Linked DNA regions of Homo sapiens: regions 1, 2 and 3 are each linked to region 4. The links come from fine-mapping of genetic effects on gene expression. A gene starts in region 4. Each other region holds a variant in brackets. All regions are shown on one strand. Distances are between the middles of the regions.

Region 1 (5,155 bases), 47 kb after region 4:
TAAAGAGACTAAATCATAAAAATGAAGCAAAGGGACAGGAAAACGACCTATGCCATTTTTCTCATACTCCAATGGCAAAGTTATTGAAAGTTGTTAACTATGTATTATCCATGAAAGAATATCGTTGGGGCATAGTTCTTAAAAGATCCAATTGCTTTATTACTGAGCTACTTTCTGATTTTCTACTAATTTTGAATATTCACTCGCTTTTTTGGTGTGAGTTAAATTATAATCACAACTCCTTTTCCACTTTCAATTTGATTGAACTTTTTGTTTCATTTTCTAGTTTGGTGAGGATTCATCAACCTCCAGTATGATGTCTGTGAACTTTGATGTTCAATCAAATCAGAGTGATATCAATGATTCGGTCAAGTCTTCTCCCGTAGCCCATTCTATTCTCTGGATTTGGGGCAGGGACTCTGATGCATATAGGGTAAGTTAATAGAGGATGACGAAGCAGTTTTCTCAAACTGGCAAGATCCATTAAAGCAGTGGCCCTCAACCTCACTGATTAATATGGCCTCTATGACTGTTCAGATTAGTTCAGCAAACGTGTAGTACATTTCTATTAAATGGAAGCTATTCTGCTAGGTAGTGAATGAGTAAGATGCAATTTCTGCCTTGAGTTTTTCCCAGTCAAGTAGAGCAGATAGACACCCTGATTTCAGTTCAAAGCTTTATCCTCTGAGTATTATTACCAACCTTAACAAGTTTCTAAACTTGACCCAAGCGTATGTTTTTATATACTTCACTTAATCGGCATTCTTTTATTGAACTCCCACCTGTGTGCCAGGCTAATGCTGGCAGTATAATAGATAAGCCCCCTTGCTCTTCTGGAGCCTACATTCTGGTAGATGATACAGACAATAAACAAGTTAGTACATGTGCCTGTCTAGACTAGCTAAGAAAGAATTGTAGGTTAGCTGAGGCGGATACCAAGGTATGAGGACAGAGACTGTGTGCTTTTTATTCACCATTAAATTTTCAGAATTTAATCAAGGGTTTAACAGAATTAAACAGCCACTTAGATTTAATTATATTTAATATAAATCCCTCAAAGTTTGATAGCTTGAAGATTTAAGTTTAGTAAGCCTCTGGTACATCTTATTTATTTTTAGAGAAAATTAACATTTTACAAATCATAAAACAATTGTTAAACTTTGGCATTGGCAAAGAAAAGACCTTAGTTCAGGGAAAAGTAGTGTTCAATGCCAGGTTTTATAGGCTTATGTATGCTTTCAGGTACAAGTCATAAGCTCCACCTCAAATTAAATACAAAGAAAATGTGCCTGTTACTACAGGAAGTCCAGAAATAGGATAAACTTCAGGTTTGGTTGATTCAGTGGCCCAGTGATGTCATCAGTGACCCATTTCTTCTTTTTCTTTTTTTTTTTTTTTTTCTTCACTCTGCCATCCACAGTATTGGTTTCATCCAAAAGCTTGGTTTTTTTCATGGTCATGACAGCCAGCAGCAACTGGAACAACATGATTTTTTGTTCATATGTAACGTAAGAGCCTAAGACTTGCTTCTCTTTCCGAAAAGCCCCAAGCAAGCCTCTTCTTGTGTCTCACTGGCTCAACTGGCTTATACCCGCCCAACCCTGAACCAGTCTGTGGTAAAGCAGGTAGAATTACTGACTTAGATTAATAATCTGCAGTAGCAGGAATATTATAGAGTCTACCATAATCTTAAGATATTATAGTTTTGTTCAATTATTGTAGTATATCATTTTAAAAGTTTATTTAGCATATTGAAATATTGAATCCAAAGAAATTTATGAGAAATTTTGTTTCTTTATCAGGACAAACAGCATATTCTATGGCCTAAAAGAGCAGATTGTACAGAAAGCTACCCTAGAGTCCCTGTTGGTGGGGAATTGCCAACGTATTTTCTGCCTCCGGAAAACAAAGGACTCAGGCAAGTGGTGATGGATTTGGCAAAGCACCTGATTCTGCATGATTGTCATCTAGCGGTTCTTTGAGAGCACCAGCCTTGGACTTGAAAA[G/A]TTAAGTCTTTATCTTGAAGTCACCCAAACTTTGAAAATATGAATCTTGTTCCTTTTTCTTGTGCCAGGATCCACGAACTCAGCAGTGATGATTATTCTACAGAAGAAGAGGCCCAAACCCCTGACTGTTCCATAACTGACTTCAGAAAAAGCCACACTCTGTCCTACTTAGTCAAAGAATTAGAGGTTCGCATGGATCTGAAAGCCAAAATGCCAGATGACCATGCACGAAAAGTAAGGCTCACTTAGGCTGGTATTTATTGCCGTCCATTCTGGGTGACTTCAGAAGCCTCTTAAATGGAACAAAAAATTGATAGAAGGTAGCTGTTGAGCTTTAAGTGTATAAAATGGAAGGATAGAGTTAAAGAATTGGTGAAATGATGGCGAAGTCAGTCATGCTATTAAAGGAGTGCCAGAGAGTTCCTCGGGGCTGCTATACGTAGATCACCTAAACACTATTCCTCTAACGCAGAGCACTTCAAAGATGAGTAGCACAGAACTCTCTGTTATCTAATGGAGTTGGTGTAATGCAGGCCATTGCAACCACTAAAAGTTAGCTTTGCATCCTCCAGGCCTCCAGAAGTGTATATAAATTGAAAGCTTGAAGAATCTCTCTCTGGCCTTATCAACCCTGCTGTGACCTTATATGAGGTCCATAGGAATTTATATTAATTTGATAATGACTCTGCAAACATTAGAAGTTCAATTATGCTCTTTTCCTAAATTCCTATTAATTATATATAACTACGAGTGTTTTATTACTGTATATTACCATATTAGATATCATTCCATAGATAAAAATGAAAAAAAAAATTACCTTTTTAGCAATCACAGACCATCACAACCACCTTTTTTTTTTTAAGTTAATTTCAAAACTATAGGCACTTACTGTTACTTATATTCAATAGACATTTCCTTAGGCAAAAAACATTATGTGCCAGACATTGTTTTGGATGCTAGGAATACAAAAAGATAAACAGACCATGATCTGTGCCTTAGAGTTGTTTACCGTTATATAAATGCTGCAGGAACATGAAGTAGAATAATTGAGTATCTGGTATTTTCCAGGAAGGAAAGACAGTAGATTTTTATTACATCAGATATTGCATGCTGTTGTCTTTTGAATAATTTCTTCTTGGGTTCTGAACACTTAGGCTGACTTTAATGGGGTATGGTAGGTTACTTTAATGTGTGGGGGTATATATGTCTTTTTAACTTTTTAGTTAAACTATTACATACATGTGAGCAGGTCAACACCTGTTGGTATGTGAATGAATTTATGTCATATATATGATCATAAATATTTGTTCAAATTAGCTGTTCCTGAGGAGCTTAAGAAAAGACTGCCATCTATAGAAATTCTTTTCAAATGTCTTCCCTGTTATTTTCAATTGAGTCAGTCTTCCTTTTGATGTTTCAGATTTTGCTTTCCCGTATTAATAACTATACTATCCCAGAAGAAGAAATTGGGTCTTTCTTATTTCATGCTATTAATAAGGTGAGTCATTTACTTTAGACATCTAAAACTTAAATGCTTCTTAATTATAAGTAAAAGTTAAAATGCACTTATTAAAAATCTTATTTAGAACAAGTACTGTATTCTTGTACTAACTGAAGTATTTTTGGATTTTTCAGCCAAATGCTCCTATCTGGCTCATACTCAATGAAGCTGGACTATACTGGAGAGCAGTAGGAAATAGCACTTTTGCTATTGCCTGTCTTCAGAGGGCTTTGAATTTAGCTCCACTTCAATACCAAGATGTTCCTCTTGTCAACTTGGCCAACCTTTTGATTCATTACGGCCTTCATCTTGATGCCACTAAGCTGCTACTTCAAGCTTTGGCCATCAATAGCTCTGAGGTGAGGTTTTAAGGGATTTCATAGTTCCGTATACTATGTAGGGTAACTCAAATTTAGATTACAATTTGTATTTTTCTAGGGAAAGCATAAAAAATGTCATGTTTTGTCTTTCACAGTAGCGTTTGCATTATTTCAAGAGAGTGTGAAAAAGCTTTTGTTGTATTTTGATGTGTTCTTTAAATTTTGAGTGAAATTTATAATTACACAGTTAAGTTTTTTTTTTTTTGGAAACTTACATTTAAATAAGAATAACATAAGCTGTAAAAATATACTGCCGCTTTTTTATGTCTGTCTGAAACATCTGGTTTGTATTTTATCCTACTCATCACAGCATGCACACTGCTTAATATTACACTGTTTTACAACTTTAATTTATAGAAATATTTATACCCTTCAAGCCAGAGGACAGTTCAAAGGTGGTTTTGATAAGAATAAATAGATACATTGATTTTCATGCCCCAAACCTCTCACATGCAGCTTATGGAGTTACATCAGTGCTTTGTAGTTCATGGTTTTGAAGATACAACTTTGGTTTTTCATATTTTAACATCTCTGATATCAGGATGGATGTTATAATTGCTGTCATTTTAGGTTTCATGAAATTCAGTTATAATAAATATACAATTAAATTGATTTTATACCTAATGTCTAAATGTTTATAGGTTTTGTATTCAAAGAAACCTTCAGAAGGGATGTGCATGAATGGTTGAGGTTTATTTATGGTGTCTGAAAACTGATTTTTTAAGGATGAGAAGAAAATATTGCCTGTTTTCTTTTGAAATACAGAAATTCACAACTGGATTTTAAGCAGAAGTTTACAATCTCAATATTATGTAACAGGTCACATTGCCAGAGAAGTACATCAAATATTTATCTAGTGCTTACTGTGTACCAGGTGCTGGTACAGTGGGAACAGATGTGATAAAGTGGGCAATGGAAAGCGCAATGCAGCCGTATTCCCTTGAAACTTTTCATGATTCCCTTTTTACTGTTTTCAGCCAAGGGACTTAGGTAGTATTCTTCTGAAGAAAAAAGACCTCCTTTAGTGATCAGTTACCTTTTGATATTTTAAAATCATACTAAAATTTTAGTTGTTAAATACCATGGTGCTACAATAAGAATAAAAAGATAAATTAATGGATCAGGGTGGGTACCCCAAAAATATACCTTTTTTTTTTCTTTGAGACAGGTTCTTGCTCTGTTGCCCAGGCTGGAGTGCAGTGGCGTGGTCACGGCTCACTGCAGCCTCCACCTCCTAGGCTCAAGTAGTGCACCCACCTCAGCCTCCC
Region 2 (5,155 bases), 120 kb after region 4:
TTCAAAACAATAATTATTAGGAGTAGAGAGAATGACTACATAATGATAAAATGTTTCATTCACCAGAAAGATATACCAGTTCTAAACTTACACATATTCAGTAAAATACCCTCAAAATATGTAAAGCAAACAAAAGAAAGATAGATGTACAGTTAGAAATTGCAAATCTGTCAACATAAACACTCTTCTCCATTATGCATAAGTCAGTCAGTTTGTACCTGTGTTTATGTTCATGAGGGATATTGGTCTGTGGTTTTTTTTATTATGTTTTTGTGAAGTTTTGGTATCAGGATAATAATGACCTTGTTTAATGAGTTGGAGGTGTTTCCTTCACTTTAGTTTTCTGAAAAAGTCTGTAGAGAATTCCTTAATATTTGATAGAATTTGCCAGTGAAGCCATCTGGTCCTAGAGTTCTCTTTGTGGGAGGTTTTTAATTATAGCTCTAATATCTTTAATAGATCTAGGGCTATTCAAATTATCTCTTTCTTCTCTGGTGATCTTTGGTAATTGTGTCTTTCAAGGGATTTGTTTATTTCATCTAAATTGTTTATTGGCAGAAAGTTCTTCATATTATTTTCTTATCATCCTTTTACTATCTGTAGGATCTGTAGTAATGGACCCTCTCTTAATCCTGATATTGGTACTTTGTATCTTATCTCTTTTTTTCTGATCAGACTCGCTAGAAGTTTATGAATTTTATTGATTTTTTTTGTTGTTGGGGAATAGGGGGACAGAGTCTCGCTCTGTCGCCCAGGCTGGAGTGCAGTGGTGCGATCTCAGCTCAGTGCAGCCTCTGCCTCCTGGGTTCAAGTGATTCTCGTGCCTCAGCCTTCTGAGTAGCTGGGGTTACAGGCTTGCACCACCATGCCTGGCTAATTTTTGTATTTTTAGTAGAGATGAGGTTTCACCATGTTGCCCAGGTCAGTCTCAAACTCCTGAGCTCCAGTGATCCACCCACCTCGGCCTCCCAAAGTGCTGGGATTACAGCCACCATGCTTGGCCATTTTATTGATCTTAAATAATCAGTTTGAGGATCCACTGACTTTCCACCATCTTTTTGTTTTCTCTTTCATTTATGTCTGCTCTTATCTTTGTAATTTCCTTGTCTTCCGCTTGCTTAGGATTTAATTTGCTTTTCATTTTTTAGGTTTTTAATAGTTTTTTTTTTTTAGGCTTTTAATATAAGCTTGTATTATTGACTTGATCCCTGTCTTCTTTTCTAATGTAGATGTTCAATGCTAAAAGTTTCCTGTAAATTTATGACAAATTTAACTTGTCATATTTTCATTTTCATTCAATTCAAAGTACTTTATAATTTTCCTTCTAATTTTTTTGACCCATGAGTTATTTAGGAGTATGATATTTAGTTTCCAACTATTTGGGTGTTTTCTAGATATCTTTCTTTAATTGATAGCTAGTTTAACTCCATTGTAGTAAATGAACATACTTTGTATGATTTGAATTCTTTTCAGCTTATTCAAGCTTGTTTTATGGGCCAGAATGTGGCCTATCTTGGTTAATGCTTCATGTGCACTAGAAAGGAATATTGTCTTCTGCTTTTGTTAGGTAGAGCATTTTAGAAATATCAGTTAGGTTAAGCTCCTGATAGTATTGTTTATATTTTCTTTACTGATTTTTCTGGTCTTCTATAAGTTATTGAGAGGCTAATTCAACTATATTAATAATTATGAATTTGCTTGTATCTTATTTTAGTCCTGTAAGTTTTCGATTTGTGTATTTCTAAGTTCTGTTACTAGATGTAGAAATCAATGAAATAGAAAACAAAGATATAATAGAGAAGATGAACAATCCAAAAGTTGTTTCTTTGAAACAAGTAGTAAAATAAACTTTTGGCAAAATTAAGATAAAAAGAAAGTACAAATTCTCAATATCAAGAAAAAGGGCAAAACAAAACTATGGTTATATCAAATTAAGGGATAAGAAAAGCATATAATTGCAACTTTATGCCAATAAATTTGAAAACAGGTAGACAATTTCTTAGAAAAATGTAATGTATTAAACTGATTCAAGAACAAAAAGAAAACCTGAAGAATCTCATAATTCTCAAATAAATTAAGTAGTAAGTTTTTAAAAAATCTTCTCACAAAGATTACAACAAGGTCTGTTGATTTTGCAAGTGTGAATTCTACAAACTTTTGAGAAATACCTCATCCTAATATAAACAGACTTCCAGACATTAGAATAAGGAATGACATACCAGTTAATTCCTTGAGACGGGTATAAACTTTAAAACAAAACCAGACATTATGAGAAAGAAAAATAATATATATTTATATATGTTGTCATATATAATTTTTAAGTTAGCACTAATCTCACTCATGAACTTAGGTATCAAAATCAAAATCATAAGCAAAATGTTAACAGACTGAATCCAGCAGCACATTTCTTTAAAAAGAGATATACCTTGACCAAATTGGGTTTATCCCAGAAATACTGAAAATGGTCTAACTCTAGGAAAACGCAAAATTTGAGTCACCAAATTAAAGGAAAAAAACTATGAAATCATTTCAGTAGATTGCATTTGATACAATTCATACCCATTTATAATGTAAAACTTAGTAAATTCCTTAATGTGGTGAAAATAATCAACAAAACATCTACTTCAAAGATGATTCTTACTGAGGAAATATGAAAAATAATTACTTGAAATCAAGAAAAAGAATGCAGACTATCACCACTTCTTTTCAACCTTGTACTGAAACTCCTAGCAAGTATAGTAAATCAATAAAAAGAAATTAGGCTGGGCGCAGTGGCTCACGCCTGTAATCCCAGCATTTTGGGAGGCCGAAGTGGGCAGATCACTTGAAATCAGGATTTCAGGACCAGCCTGGTCAACACAGTGAAACCTCCTCCCTACTAAAAATGCAAAAATTAGCCAGGCGTGGTGGTGCAGCCCTGTAATCCCAGCTATTCAGGAGGCTGAGGCAGAAGAATCACTTGAACCCAGGAGGCGGAGGTTGCAGTGAGCCGAGATTGTGTCACTGTACTCCAGCCTGGGCGAGAGAGCGAGACTCCATCTCAAAAAAAGAAAGAAA[T/G]AAATTAATGGCATAAGTGTAAAGAAGAAAAAACAAAATGTCATTCAGAGGTGATATGATTATCTGTATAGTAAACCCCAAAGACTCCACAGTTTTTTAGAAATAATATTTTTCTCAAAGTGGCTTCCCGTAAACTCAATAAATAAAAAGTTGCATTTCTGTACAGCAGCACAAAATTTAAAAGTGTAATTTTTAAAAATATACATCGTTATAAAAATATAAAGTTCTCAATAAATCTTACAAAAGTTATCAAGACCTCCGTGCAGCAAGAGATAAAACTTCTATTAAAAACCATTTTAAACAATCTAAATAAATAGATATATAATGTTCATGGATAAGAAGACACATGTTATAAACATGTCAGTTTTCCTCAATTTGATTTATAGAGTCAATGCTATTATAATCAAAGTACCAGCAGGGTTTTTTTATGGCACTTGAAAAGCAGGTCTTTATATGGAAAGGTAAATCATGAAGAATAGACCTGACACTCTTGAAAAGAAAAATAAAGTGAGAGTTGCCTTACTTTTTTGATAAAACAAGACATTATGCTGTTTGCTCAAGCATAAATAAAAATGGCTAGGAAGACTAAATAGGAAGGCCAGAAATAGACTCGAATACAGGGGTCCAACTCCCAGGCCACGGATGGGTACTGGTCTGTGGCCTGTTAGGAATTGGGCTACACAGCAGAAGGTGAGTGGCAGGTGAACTTCATCTCTATTTACAGCCACTCCCCATCGCTCGCATTACTGCCTGAGCTGTACATGCGAGGGATCTAGGTTGCACGGAAGTTCCTTATGAGAATCTAATGCCTGATGATCTGTCACTGTCTCCCATCACTCCCAGATGGGACCATCTAGTTGCAGGAAAACAAGCTCAGGGCTCCCACTGATTCTACATTATGGTGAGTTGTATAATTATTTCACAGTGTAATAATAATAGAAATAAAGTGCACGATAAATGTAATGCACTCGAATCATCCCAAAACCACCCCCTACCCCATCCATGGTAAATTTGTCTTCCATGAAACTGGTCCCTGGTGCCAAAAAGGTTGGGGACCTCTGCTCTAACATACAGAACTGTGATATATTAAAAAAGTAATATTGAAAATTGGTGGGAAGAGAAGGGACTATTCAGGAACTGTACTGGGGCAATTGCTTACTTAATTTCAATCTTCATATCTTACACAAAAATTCAATTCCACATGAATTAAGGGCTCAAGTATCAAAAACAAAATGTTAAAACTTAGAGTAAAATGTAGGAGATGACCTTTCTGGCTATGGAGTAAGGAAAGTTTTCTTCTTAAAGGAGACACAAAATAACTATAAAAGAAAATGTTAATGAATTAAAGTATATTAAAGTTTAATTGTTTTAATTAAAGAAAGGCAGGCCAGGGAGAAAACATGTGCAACACATTTAATCTACAAAAGATTAATATACAAAACATATAAATTGATGAAAAGTAATAAAATAGAAAAATGCATTAAAGATATTAACAGGCATTTCACAGAAGTGATATGTGTGATGAATAAATATGAGAAACAATTCTCAATCTCACTAGTGATCAGGAAATGCAAAGTAATACCACAGGAAGATGCCATTTTCCCCTCACCAACAGTACCTAGGGTTAGGAAGGACATGGATCAAGAGGTCCTTTTAAACAATGTGAATGGGGTTGTATGTTGGCATGGCACCTTTGGGAAACAATTTGGCAATCTCTTGGTTTTTTGTTTTTTTTTTTTTTTTTTTTGAACATATGCATATCCCGTGGCCCAGAAATTCTACTCCTTGGTATCTACTCTAGACTATAACAGGAGACAACCAGGAAGCAATCTAAATGCCCATCTACAGAAAATGGATAAATACCATGTAGTATATTCAACTTAATGAGCATTTAATTGTGCAGCAAGGAAACTGAATAAACACAACATGAATGAATCTTAGAAATATAATGTTGAATAAAAAGCCCCAAGTTTGTCAAGTCTGCATACAATACGCCATAGTCCCCCCCTTATTTGCAGCTTCATTTTCCACGGTTTCAGTTATCCACAGTCTATTATGGTCCAAAAATATTAAATGGAAAATTCCAAAAATAAATATA
Region 3 (5,155 bases), 110 kb after region 4:
AAGAAAGAATGAAGAACACTGGGAAACATATGTAAATGAATAGTAACTGTACAAAATAATAATGGTACACCCTGAGGAGTTTCAATTTTATGTACTGTATATCTAAAATTCATGGTAGCAATAACTTAAATGATGAGAGGGAAGCAAATAGAGTTTAAAAGTCCTAAGGCTTAATTGGTATCAGCCAAGTAGTAAAAGTAATAATTTGCATTGGCCTTAATAAGTAAAAAAGCATGTTTTAAACTCTAGGCTAACAACTAAAAATTATTTTTAAATGTAACTTAATAGAAGGAAAATGGAATCATGTAGAACATTTGATTAATCCAAAGGAAGTCAAGGGAAGATAAAGGTACATAAAAGTAGAGCACAAATAGTACAATGGCGAATATAGACCCAAGCACATCAGTAGTTACATGGAGGAAGACTGTGTAACTTAAGAATTAAATGTAGGCTAGATTAAAAAAAAAAAAAAAACGGCTATATAACTATACCCTTGTCAGAAAAAGTAAACTTTATAATAAGAAGCATTACTGGAGTTAAAGTGGAATATTTTATAACACTAAAGGGATCTGTGGCAGGCTGAATAGTGCCCCCCTACAAAGATATCCACGTTCTAATCCCTGGAACCTGTGAAAACTATATACATACACAGTATGGAAAGAAGAGGACTTTGCAGATAAAATTGAGGATCTGGAGATGGAGCGATTATCCTGGATTATCCAGTTGGGTCCTAAAGCCAATCACATGTATTCTTATAAAGAAGGAGACAGAGACTTAATCCTGAAGAGTAGAAGGCTGTGTGACAATAGAGGCAGAGTTATGCAGCCACAAGCCAAGGAATGCCAGCAGCCACGAGAAACCAGAAGAGGGAAGTAACAGATTCTCTAGATCCTCTGAAGGGAGCACAGCCCTGCTGACACATTGACTTTGACCCAATGATATTGATTTTGGACCTCCTGCCTTAAGAGCTGTGAAGGAATAGATTTTTATTGTTTTAAACCACCAAGTATGTGTTAATTTGTCACAGTAGCTATAGGAAAGTAATATAGATTTAATTCACAAGGTAGGTATGTTCTGTAAACTGTATGCACCAAAGAACATAATCTAAAATATATAAGGTAAACATTGACATAACTGGCAGAAGAAATAGACATATTCCCAATCAAAGTAGATTTGAATAAAATTATAATAACTGATAGCAGTTATTATTGTAGCAGACCAAAAACACCACAATTACAAACTGAACCTAGCTGCCATATGTAAGCACTGAATCCAGCAGTGACAAAATTCTTTTTTTTTTTTGAGACAGAGTCTCACTCTATTGCCCAGGCTGAAGTGCAGTGGTGCTATCTTGGCTCACTGCAACCTCTGCCTCCCAGGTTCAAGTGATTCTCCTGCCTCAGCCTCCCAAGTAGCTGGGACTACAGGCGTGCGCCACCACACCCAGGAATTTTTGTATGTTTTAATAGAGACGGGGTTTCACCATATTGGCCAGGCTGGTCTCAAACTCCTGACCTCATGATCCACCCGCCTCAGCCTCACAAATTGCTGGGATTACAGCTGTAAGCCACCGTGCCCGGCCCAAAATTCATTCTTTTACATGCACAAGGAAGGAACATTTATCATATGTGAACACTTAACATATGACTGAGCCATAAAAAAGGCCTTAACAAATTTCCAAAGATTTAAATTTCTTAGCATGGAAATGGATATTGACCAATACAGATTAAGCCAGAAATCATACAAAATAAAAATAGCTTACAAAATAAAAATAGCATACAAAATAAAAATATCATACAAAAATAAATAGCTTTCATATATACAATTTAAAAAAACAGAAGTTGTAAGAGAATTTTAAAAGAAAATACCTTAGGCAATTTTTTTTTTAATCTCCAAAATTTAAAACTCTTCTGAAAAATACAAAACTAGGCTTGAACAAATGGAAAGACTTAACCATGTTCTTGCATGTGAAGTCTCAGCATCATATAATATCAGTTCTCTTAAGTTAGTTTGTCATTTTAATGCAATAACAATAAAAATGCCATGTTATTTTCTGGTGCCAGGCAAGCTATTAATAATTGTTTAAGTTTATCTCAAAGAAGAAACAATCAAGAATAATTAGAGAAACTGAAAAAAAGAACAGTGGGAGAAGAGGAGGATTTAACCTAGAAGACATTAAACATACATGAAGCCTTTAATTAATGTAGTTTGATATTGCTGCATGAATGCACAAACCAATGGGAAAGAATAAAAGACTAATTGCATATGGCAATTTCGAATACTGTAAAGGCAGCATCTCATCAGTGAAAGGAAATGTATGTTTTAATGCTAAATAGGGGAAAAGATAAAATTATATCCATTCCACGGGGCGTGGTGGCTCCTGCCTATAATCCCAGCACTTTGGGAGGCTGAGGCGGGTGGATCACCTGAGGTCAGGAGTTCAAGACCAGCCTGGCCAACATGATGAAACTCCATCTGTACTAAAAATACAAAAAAAAATTAGCTGGGCGTGGTGGTGCACGCCTGTAATGCCGGGTACTCGGGAGGGTGGGGCAGAAGAATCGCTTGAACCTGGGAGGCAGAGGTTGCAGTGAGCTGAGATCATGCTGCTGCACTCCAGCTTGGGCGATAGAGTGAGACTCCATCTCAAAAAAAAAAAAAAAATTACATCCATTCCTTCTACTACACACCAAGATAAATTTTAAGTGGATCAGAGATTAAAATAAATGTAACAAAATGACTTCATACAAGTACAAATAAAATGCATGGGAATTTCCCTGTAACTTGGATGTAGGGAAAATTTCCTAATAGACTCAAAATTCATACACACTAAGGAAAAAGATGAATAACTAACTTTTTTT[A/T]AAAAAACTTGCATTTCAAACAGGCGCAATGAACAAAATGAAAAGCTGGGAACAGTATTTTCAAATTATATTACAGATAAAGGGATTTTAAACCTAATTTCTAAGGAGCTTTTACAGGGAAGGAAGAAGGTCAACAATCTTAGAAAAATGGACTAGATGCAGCAGAAAAGAAAATGAAAGCAGAAAATTATGGAAAATTGTCAAACGGAATTATAAAGAGGAAAAAAATGGAAATGCAAGCTTTTTTTTTTAAAGAGAGAATGATCTGCTACAATACAGGAGGCTGATCTGGGCAGAGAAACCAACAGCCTTTAAAAGTCATGCAGGGCTAGAGAAATAAGATTGGATACTAGAAAGGCTAAGGTCCTGCTGAGAAGGGAAGGACAGAGATGTGAGCCTAGTACCCTTCACAATACATTGGCAAATTCTGAAGCTACAAAGCACAAGAGACCAGAAAGCCAAGTAGAAAGCTATGAAAAACCATTTTTAGGAAGCTAGTATTAGAGTTCAAGACCCAGCAGTGAGGACAAGAGGCTTTTGGTGACTGTCTGGGGATTTCATTTGGAAAGTCTGGAGATTGGTGCCTTTTAAGAAGGGACAAAACTAAGGGTAAGTGAACTTTGGTTCTAGGAATGGCAAGACCAGCAAGAAGATCACCATTGCCAACTGTAGCCTTTACACAATGTCATAGCAGCCCAAATTCAGTCAGCTATTGAATTAAGTTTATTGTCTACTTGCCAAGCTAAAGAATGTATGAATGCTGTCTTTAGAAGATAACATCATATGGAGGTTCTACAACTTCTTAGACACAATGTCAAGCTTTTAGTAAAATTATACTAGACATTCAAGAGATGGGATTGAAAACCAAGAGAAAGGGCAGACAATAGAAATATACTCACAGATGATTCAGGCAGTGGAGTTAAGACCAGGACTTGAAATAACAATGATAATTGTTCAAGAAAATAGAAGACAGGGAGAAAATAAATAAAAGGGAAATTTCCCCCCAGATAATTGGAACTTGTGGGGGATAAAAAGAATCAAATGGATATTCTAGAGCTGAGAATTGCAATAACTGAAATTAAGAACTCAATTGATGGGTATAAAATCAAATTAGACAATGGCGAGCCCAAAAATAAACCCTCATGTATATAATCAAATAATTTTCCACACGGGTACCAAGACCATTCAATGGGGAAAAGATGGTCTCTTCAAAAAGTGGTGTTAGGGAAACTGTATATTCATATGCAAAAGAATGAAGTTGGACCCTTACCTTATATCATAGGCAAAAGTTAACTCAAAATGGTCCAAAGACCTAAGTGTAAGACCTAAAACTGTACAACTCTTGGAAGAAAACAGAGGAAAAAAGCATTAAGACAATATATGTATTTCTTGGATATGACACCAAAAGCACAGGCAACAAATGTAAAAATAGACAAAGTGGACTATATTAAAGTTTAAAACTTCTGGGCATCAGAGGACACAATTAACAGAGTGAAAAGACAGCCTACAGACTAGGAGAAAATATTTGCAAGTCATACATCTAATAAAGGGTTAATATTTCCAAATTATATAAACAACTTGTACAAATTAAAAACAAAATAACCCAATTAAAAAATATACAAAGGACTTGAATGGTCATTTCTCCAAAGATGATATGCAAACAGCCAACAAGCATATGCAAATATGCTCAATACCACAAATCATCAGGAAAATGCAAATCAAACCACAACGAGATATCATGTCACACCAATTAGGATGGCCACTATTAAAAACATAAAATTAATAAGCATTGGCAAGGATGTAGAAATTAGAACACCTGTGCACTGTTGGTGGGAATATAAAATGATGCAGCTGGCTTTGCAGACACTGCTGTCCCCCAACACCCCCTGTCACTAGGCCATGGTCATCCCGACTGTGCCCTTCAACATCACCATCAACAGCAAGCCCTTAGGACACATCTCCTTTCAGCTATTTGCAGACAAATTTCCAAAGACAGGAGAAAACTTTCACACTCTGAACAATAAAGACAAAGGATTTGGTTCCTGCTTTCACAGAATTATTCCGGAGTTTATATGCCAGGGTGATGACTTCACACCCCATAATGGCATTGGTGGCAAGTCCATCTACGGGGATAAATTTGATGATAAGAACTTTATTGTGAAGCATACAGGTCTTGGCATCTTGTCCATGGCAAATGCTGCACCCAAAACAAATGAGTCCCAGTTTTTCATCTGCACTGCCATGGCCAAATGGTGGGATGGCAAGCATGTGATCTTTGGCAGGGTGAAAGAGGG
Region 4 (5,155 bases):
AGGAAACTGTCAGATAATGTGTTAAGCTAAGTTTGTGGCAATTGTTACACAGCATTAGAAAACTAATACAGGATCCCAAAAGATAAGAGTTATCATCTACAGAAAATAGGTGGTATAATAAAGCTATAGAAGCTATAATTCCACCCCTTTAGAGGTTAACTTGTGAAGGTCAAAGAAATTGCTGATAGCAAAATATGTGATGCTGGGGCCTTTCTCAAATTCCTCACTAACATTCATTCATTCTCAGGCTCTCAGATCTAGAGTCAGGTGGATCTGAGTCCAAACCTGAGCTCTACCACTTAGCAATATGATCTTGGCCAACTTACTTAACTAGCCAGAGCTTGGTAAGTTGTGACGATTAATAGGAACTATGCATGTACAGGACCCAGTACGTATTAAACACTCAAGAAATGTTAGATGATGATGATGTCAGCTTTATACACAAGAAATAGGGTTGACCTCTATGCCCCAAAAATAAGATGCTGAGACAAAAGGGATTCCATCATTTGCCACTTCTCTATTTTAAAATTCTGAAACACTCCCTATTGCCTATGTCTAAACTCCAAGAAACTCTTAAAACATGCCACTGACTTCACCTTTTCGTTTCTTGAGACGGATTCTCGCTCTGTCACTTAGGCTGGAGTGCAGTGGTGTGATCTCGGCTCACTGCAATCCCCGCCTCCCGTGTTCAAGCAATTCTCTGCCTCAGCCTCCCAAGTAGCTGGAATTACAGGTGCCCGCCACCATGCCCGGCTGATTTTTGTATTTTTAGTAGAGGCGGGGTTTCACCATCTTGGCCAGGCCAGTCTTGAACTCCTGACCTCAGTGATCCATCCACCTCGGCCTCCCAAAGTGCTGGGATTACAGGCGTGAGCCACCGCGCCCGGCCAACTTCACCTTTTCACTTATTATTCTGCCTGAACCAGCACCTGAGCTCCAAACCTTTTTTTCACCTGGTTGGTTGCTCTCTCCTGTACATATGCATTCATACACCCCCATTATCCTGTATTTTAATTGTTAACCTGCCAATAATATCTCACTATATTGCACACTGCCCAATGGTTACATTTCCATACCCAGAGACTATCAGAGTACCAGGCAAAAAGCAAATAAGCCATATATTTTTAATGAAATGAATGTTCAGTCTTCAGGCCTTTAAGAAAAGCTGTTCCTGGAATGAAGAAAAAAAAAACACCAATGCTGTGGTTGTTTCTACATTTCTATAGCGTGGTGTTTAAACACTTAGCAACTGCTCTCCTGCATACACTTGTGTAGAGAAGTGGTTAAACAATATTCTCATCCTTCTTTTCCCAAGGAGAAAACCAAAAGCATACCAACCTTAAATAACACACACAGAGGGCAATCTTGAAAGACCTAAAATGACATATCTAGCAAGAAGCTGGCAGCCAAGCTTGACGCCTGCCTGCCTGCCTGTTGGTTCACTAGAAGAAAGTGGTTCTCAAACTTTAATATGTATACCAGTCACCTGAGGCTATTGTTAAAATGTAGTCTGATTCAGCAGGTTGCGGGGGAGAGGGAGAAGAGCCGAGAATGTGCAGGTCTAAAAAGCTCCCAGGTGATGCCAATGTTTCTGGTCTCCAGACCTAGACCTCTAGCTTAGACCTGTGCTGACCAGTACGTTAGCCACATGCGGGTATTAAGCCCCTGAAATATGACTAGATAAGCTGTCAGTGTAACATGCCGATTTCCAAGACTTAGTTAAAAAAAAAAAAACTAAACTATCTCAATGATTTGTACAGACCACATTGAATTAATATTTTGTGTACTTTGAGTTAAATAAAATGTACTAGTAGGGTTACTTCCCTCTATATTTTACATTCCACACGTGGCTCGCATTATAGTGCTACTGGACAGCGGTGCCCTAAACTAACAACCGTCTCCATTCTGAAGCTTCCACTATTGTGAGACTTTAAGAATAAAAGCAACACCTCTCTTCCCATAGGTGGTTCGAAAGCACACCTTTTGTTCCCCAACTATCTACCAGAAATAAAACGAAAAAACAAAGATTTAAAAAACAATAAAATTGAGTCCTTTCACTTCTGCTTAAGCGCCACCTAAGCCACTGCTTTTGTCTCCCTCCGGTTCCCACGCTCCGAGATCGTATCACCCACAGAAAAACAATAACTAAAAAGCGGTCTCCATCCCTGAAGCCAAGCTGGGAGAGTAGCCGAAGGTCGCGCTTCCTGGCCGCCAAAACCGAGGTGGAGGAAACTTGGTAGTCAGCGAGCTACGCCCTCTCGGCTCCTCCTCCTGCTCCTCCTCCAGGGCCGACCTCTTCAAGATGGCGGGCGCCGGAGACTAGCTTCCGCTTCCGGTGTGAGCGGCCCGGCCGGGGGGGCAAGATGGCGGCGGCAGTAGGGGTTCGTGGCCGGTACGAGCTGCCGCCTTGCTCCGGCCCAGGCTGGCTCCTCAGCCTTTCCGCCTTGCTGAGTGTGGCGGCACGAGGGGCCTTCGCCACCACGCACTGGGTCGTCACGGAGGACGGGAAAATCCAGCAGCAGGTAGCGGCCGGGGCGTCCCTCTTCTCCCGTGCCCGCCCTCGCCCCGGGGGGATTACCCTGCTTGGCCCCTGGCTGTTGGGCTCCGCGCGGCCCCGCCCCCAGCCTACCCTCACAGGGAGGTGGCACCGCGACCTCGGACTCCCTGCATTCGGACCAGGCAGGCACTTCCCGCTCCCCACTTGTCTCCTGGTCCTCGTTTGGCCCCCTAGAAGTTCTCACCCTTCCACCTCGCGGGCCGCGCGCCGCGTGGGGAAGAGTCGCCCAGCTGCGGGAGACGGGCCCTACGGACCTTTTTTTAGCTCGGGGTTTAGAAATCACAGATTTCAGGATTCCTGCCTTTGGTGCCTCTCGGGTTCACGCGTCACCGGCCCTCCCCGAGGAAATAGAAAGCAGGTGGCAGCTCCAGGGTGTGCGCGAGTCCCATGGTATGACAGCTTCTGGACCCCTAGCCTGTGGACCATTCGTGCTGCTCCCCTAGTCTCGTCTACCACATGGTGGATTTCGTTTCTGGTTGTGTTGGTTTCAGCTTGTACCGTTACTCAGGTCAGCAGTGGCTCATTAGAAACAACATAGAAACACTCCCCTTCAGAAGGAATGCTTGAAGATGCCGCTGGTGGCGTTGCCTGCATCTTTTCAGCTGTTACTGCCCTCGTTTCCCAGTGCACTTTGCTTTGTTTCTTTACCTAGTTCTTGTGACCCAGCCTCGCATGGAGGATATGCGATTTCCTGGATTCTTGTATGCCTGAACTAATTCCTCAGAGGCGAGACTGCTTTTCTTATATAACTTTATGATTGCCTGCGTTTTGTAAATGCTGCTGATGCCTAACGAGTGCGTGTGTGTGTTCCGCTACAGAATATTGGTAAACTTACTGACTTCGAACACTTGAGGACAATCTTGAAGTGTCTAGCAAACATTTAGAAAGTGAATTGTGTGCCCCATGCAATTTAGCCCACTGATCTAAAACGTTTTAACTAGTGTGGTGGGAAATTACTGGTCCTTTGGATTGTGTGTAATGAATCATGATAGGAACACATTCCAACGTTTAAGGTGAGGTTTAGATTTAGATTTGCCGTGTAATGTAATTGCAAATTCTATCTCAAGTAAGTTAAGTATAACTAAAAATCCGCCTAGGTATTCATGAGTGGTTTTCAGCATATCTAAGAAAAGACCGTGTTCCTATTGGGTAACGTTTTCTATATGACATACATAAAGAACAGTTTCCTTTTCATTGCCATACTATCTGAGACTTTAAATATATGTGTATGTGTTTCAGAAACCCAAGAAAACACTGTAAGACCATATGTGAGTGCTGGTTGCTTCCACCCTTCTTTTGTTTCTTGATAGTGGTTTTCCCTGAGGTCTCTATGAAGACGTGGAATTAAGTCACTCCTGCTGCATTTTGGGGAGCCTTTCTCCTGTTGGCTCTTCTGCAATATTGTTTTTGGCCACAGCTATTTATACTCTATGACATTGACTTCTCCTTCCCATTTTGGTGTCCTACCACTCAGCTGAAAAAGTAGCCCATCTAAAAAGTGAAAGCTGGTAGAAATGTTTTATGTATATACTTAACATTGCAATGGGAAAGTAGAGTCTGATTTTTTTTTTTTTTTTAACAAATTCCTTCTTTTTGCACTTTGGATACATATGTATTAATGGGGGAAGGCAGGGGTTACTGGAAACTTGCCTCAGAGAAGCAGGGAAGAGCTGAAGAATCTTTTGGATCTCTGCCAAGTCACTGCTGAGCTAAGTAATTAGGCTTAAAGTTTAAAAAGCAAGATTTCTCTATTACATGACTTTTTAAGTGATCCTTTTCATTGAATTTTCCAATACTTTGCTATACATAACATTTACAATGTTATGTTCAGGCAGCCACAAGATTTTATGCCAGAAGAAATAAGGTTGGTGTCTGCAGTGTAACAATAAGAGGCCAGGGGAGGAAAGTTGGATTTAATCTGAAGAAAAGGCACCACATATAAATAAAGTAAAAGAATTGGGTGCTGTGGTGAGCTGCCGAGTTCCACTCTGATAGCTGATTGTGCATGACCCATGCTTCCCTTCCTGGCCATAATTTGTATGCAGGTAGAATCCAAACTATCAATTTAGATCGTGATTAATTATAATATTTGTATATACTGTACTTAAGGACTTGAAAGATCACATTAGTGTATGAAATCCATATATATTGCAGATTTGTACATTCAGAAACATAATTAAAAGCTTAGTATATACAGATGCTCCTCAGCTTATGAAGGGGTTATGTGCTGATAAACTCATTGTAAGTCGAAAATACTGTAAGTCAAAAATGCATTTAATGTACCTACCAAACATTGTAGCTTAGCCTAACCTACCTTAAACGTGCTCACAATACTTACATTAGCCAAATTTGGGCAAAATCATCTAACAGCATCTTTTACAATAAAGTATCAAAATACCTCATGTAATTCATGAATACTTCACTGAAAGTGAAAAACAGAATGGTTATATGGGCACTCAGTACAGTTGCTACCAAATGCATGTCACTTTTGCAGCATTGTAAAGTCAAGAAATTATAAGTTGAACCATCGAAAGGTGGGGACCATCTGTATACTTTGTCCTGACATACCAAATTCTTGCTGCTTATTCTTGGTTACAA

Direction of the effects. Alleles are on the strand shown, and positions count from the first base shown. SD is a standard deviation of normalised expression in the study named. Not every link is listed here.
As copies of T replace G in region 2, the expression in esophagus muscle of the gene that starts at base 2,329 in region 4 goes up (small effect, 0.11 SD a copy in GTEx).

The links. PIP is the estimated chance that this variant, and not a neighbour inherited with it, causes the effect.
Region 1: its variant is the best candidate, but not a certain one, in a credible set for the expression of TTC17 in whole blood (INTERVAL, PIP 0.50).
Region 2: its variant is the best candidate, but not a certain one, in a credible set for the expression of TTC17 in esophagus muscle (GTEx, PIP 0.56).
Region 3: its variant is the best candidate, but not a certain one, in a credible set for the expression of TTC17 in whole blood (TOPMed, PIP 0.80).

Annotation. Positions count from the first base shown.
Region 1 is chr11:43,403,712-43,408,866 of GRCh38, forward strand. It overlaps TTC17 (tetratricopeptide repeat domain 17), which reads left to right. Exons shown (of 24, transcript NM_018259.6): 11 at 287-433; 12 at 1,803-1,918; 13 at 2,075-2,240; 14 at 3,427-3,504; 15 at 3,642-3,866. Among named protein-coding and RNA genes, the nearest start is that of TTC17, 47 kb to the left of the region's middle. The variant G/A (reference allele first, on the strand shown) is at 2,007.
Region 2 is chr11:43,481,100-43,486,254 of GRCh38, forward strand. All of the region lies in intron 21 of TTC17 (tetratricopeptide repeat domain 17), which reads left to right. Among named protein-coding and RNA genes, the nearest start is that of MIR670, 76 kb to the right of the region's middle. The variant T/G (reference allele first, on the strand shown) is at 3,058.
Region 3 is chr11:43,461,632-43,466,786 of GRCh38, forward strand. The region is part of intron 21 of TTC17 (tetratricopeptide repeat domain 17); the gene reads left to right. It also overlaps the pseudogene PPIAP41. Among named protein-coding and RNA genes, the nearest start is that of MIR670, 95 kb to the right of the region's middle. The variant A/T (reference allele first, on the strand shown) is at 2,862.
Region 4 is chr11:43,356,592-43,361,746 of GRCh38, forward strand. It overlaps TTC17 (tetratricopeptide repeat domain 17), which reads left to right and starts at 2,329. Exons shown (of 24, transcript NM_018259.6): 1 at 2,329-2,522. The coding sequence starts at 2,364. RefSeq lists an enhancer at 2,188-2,457 and a silencer at 2,588-2,667.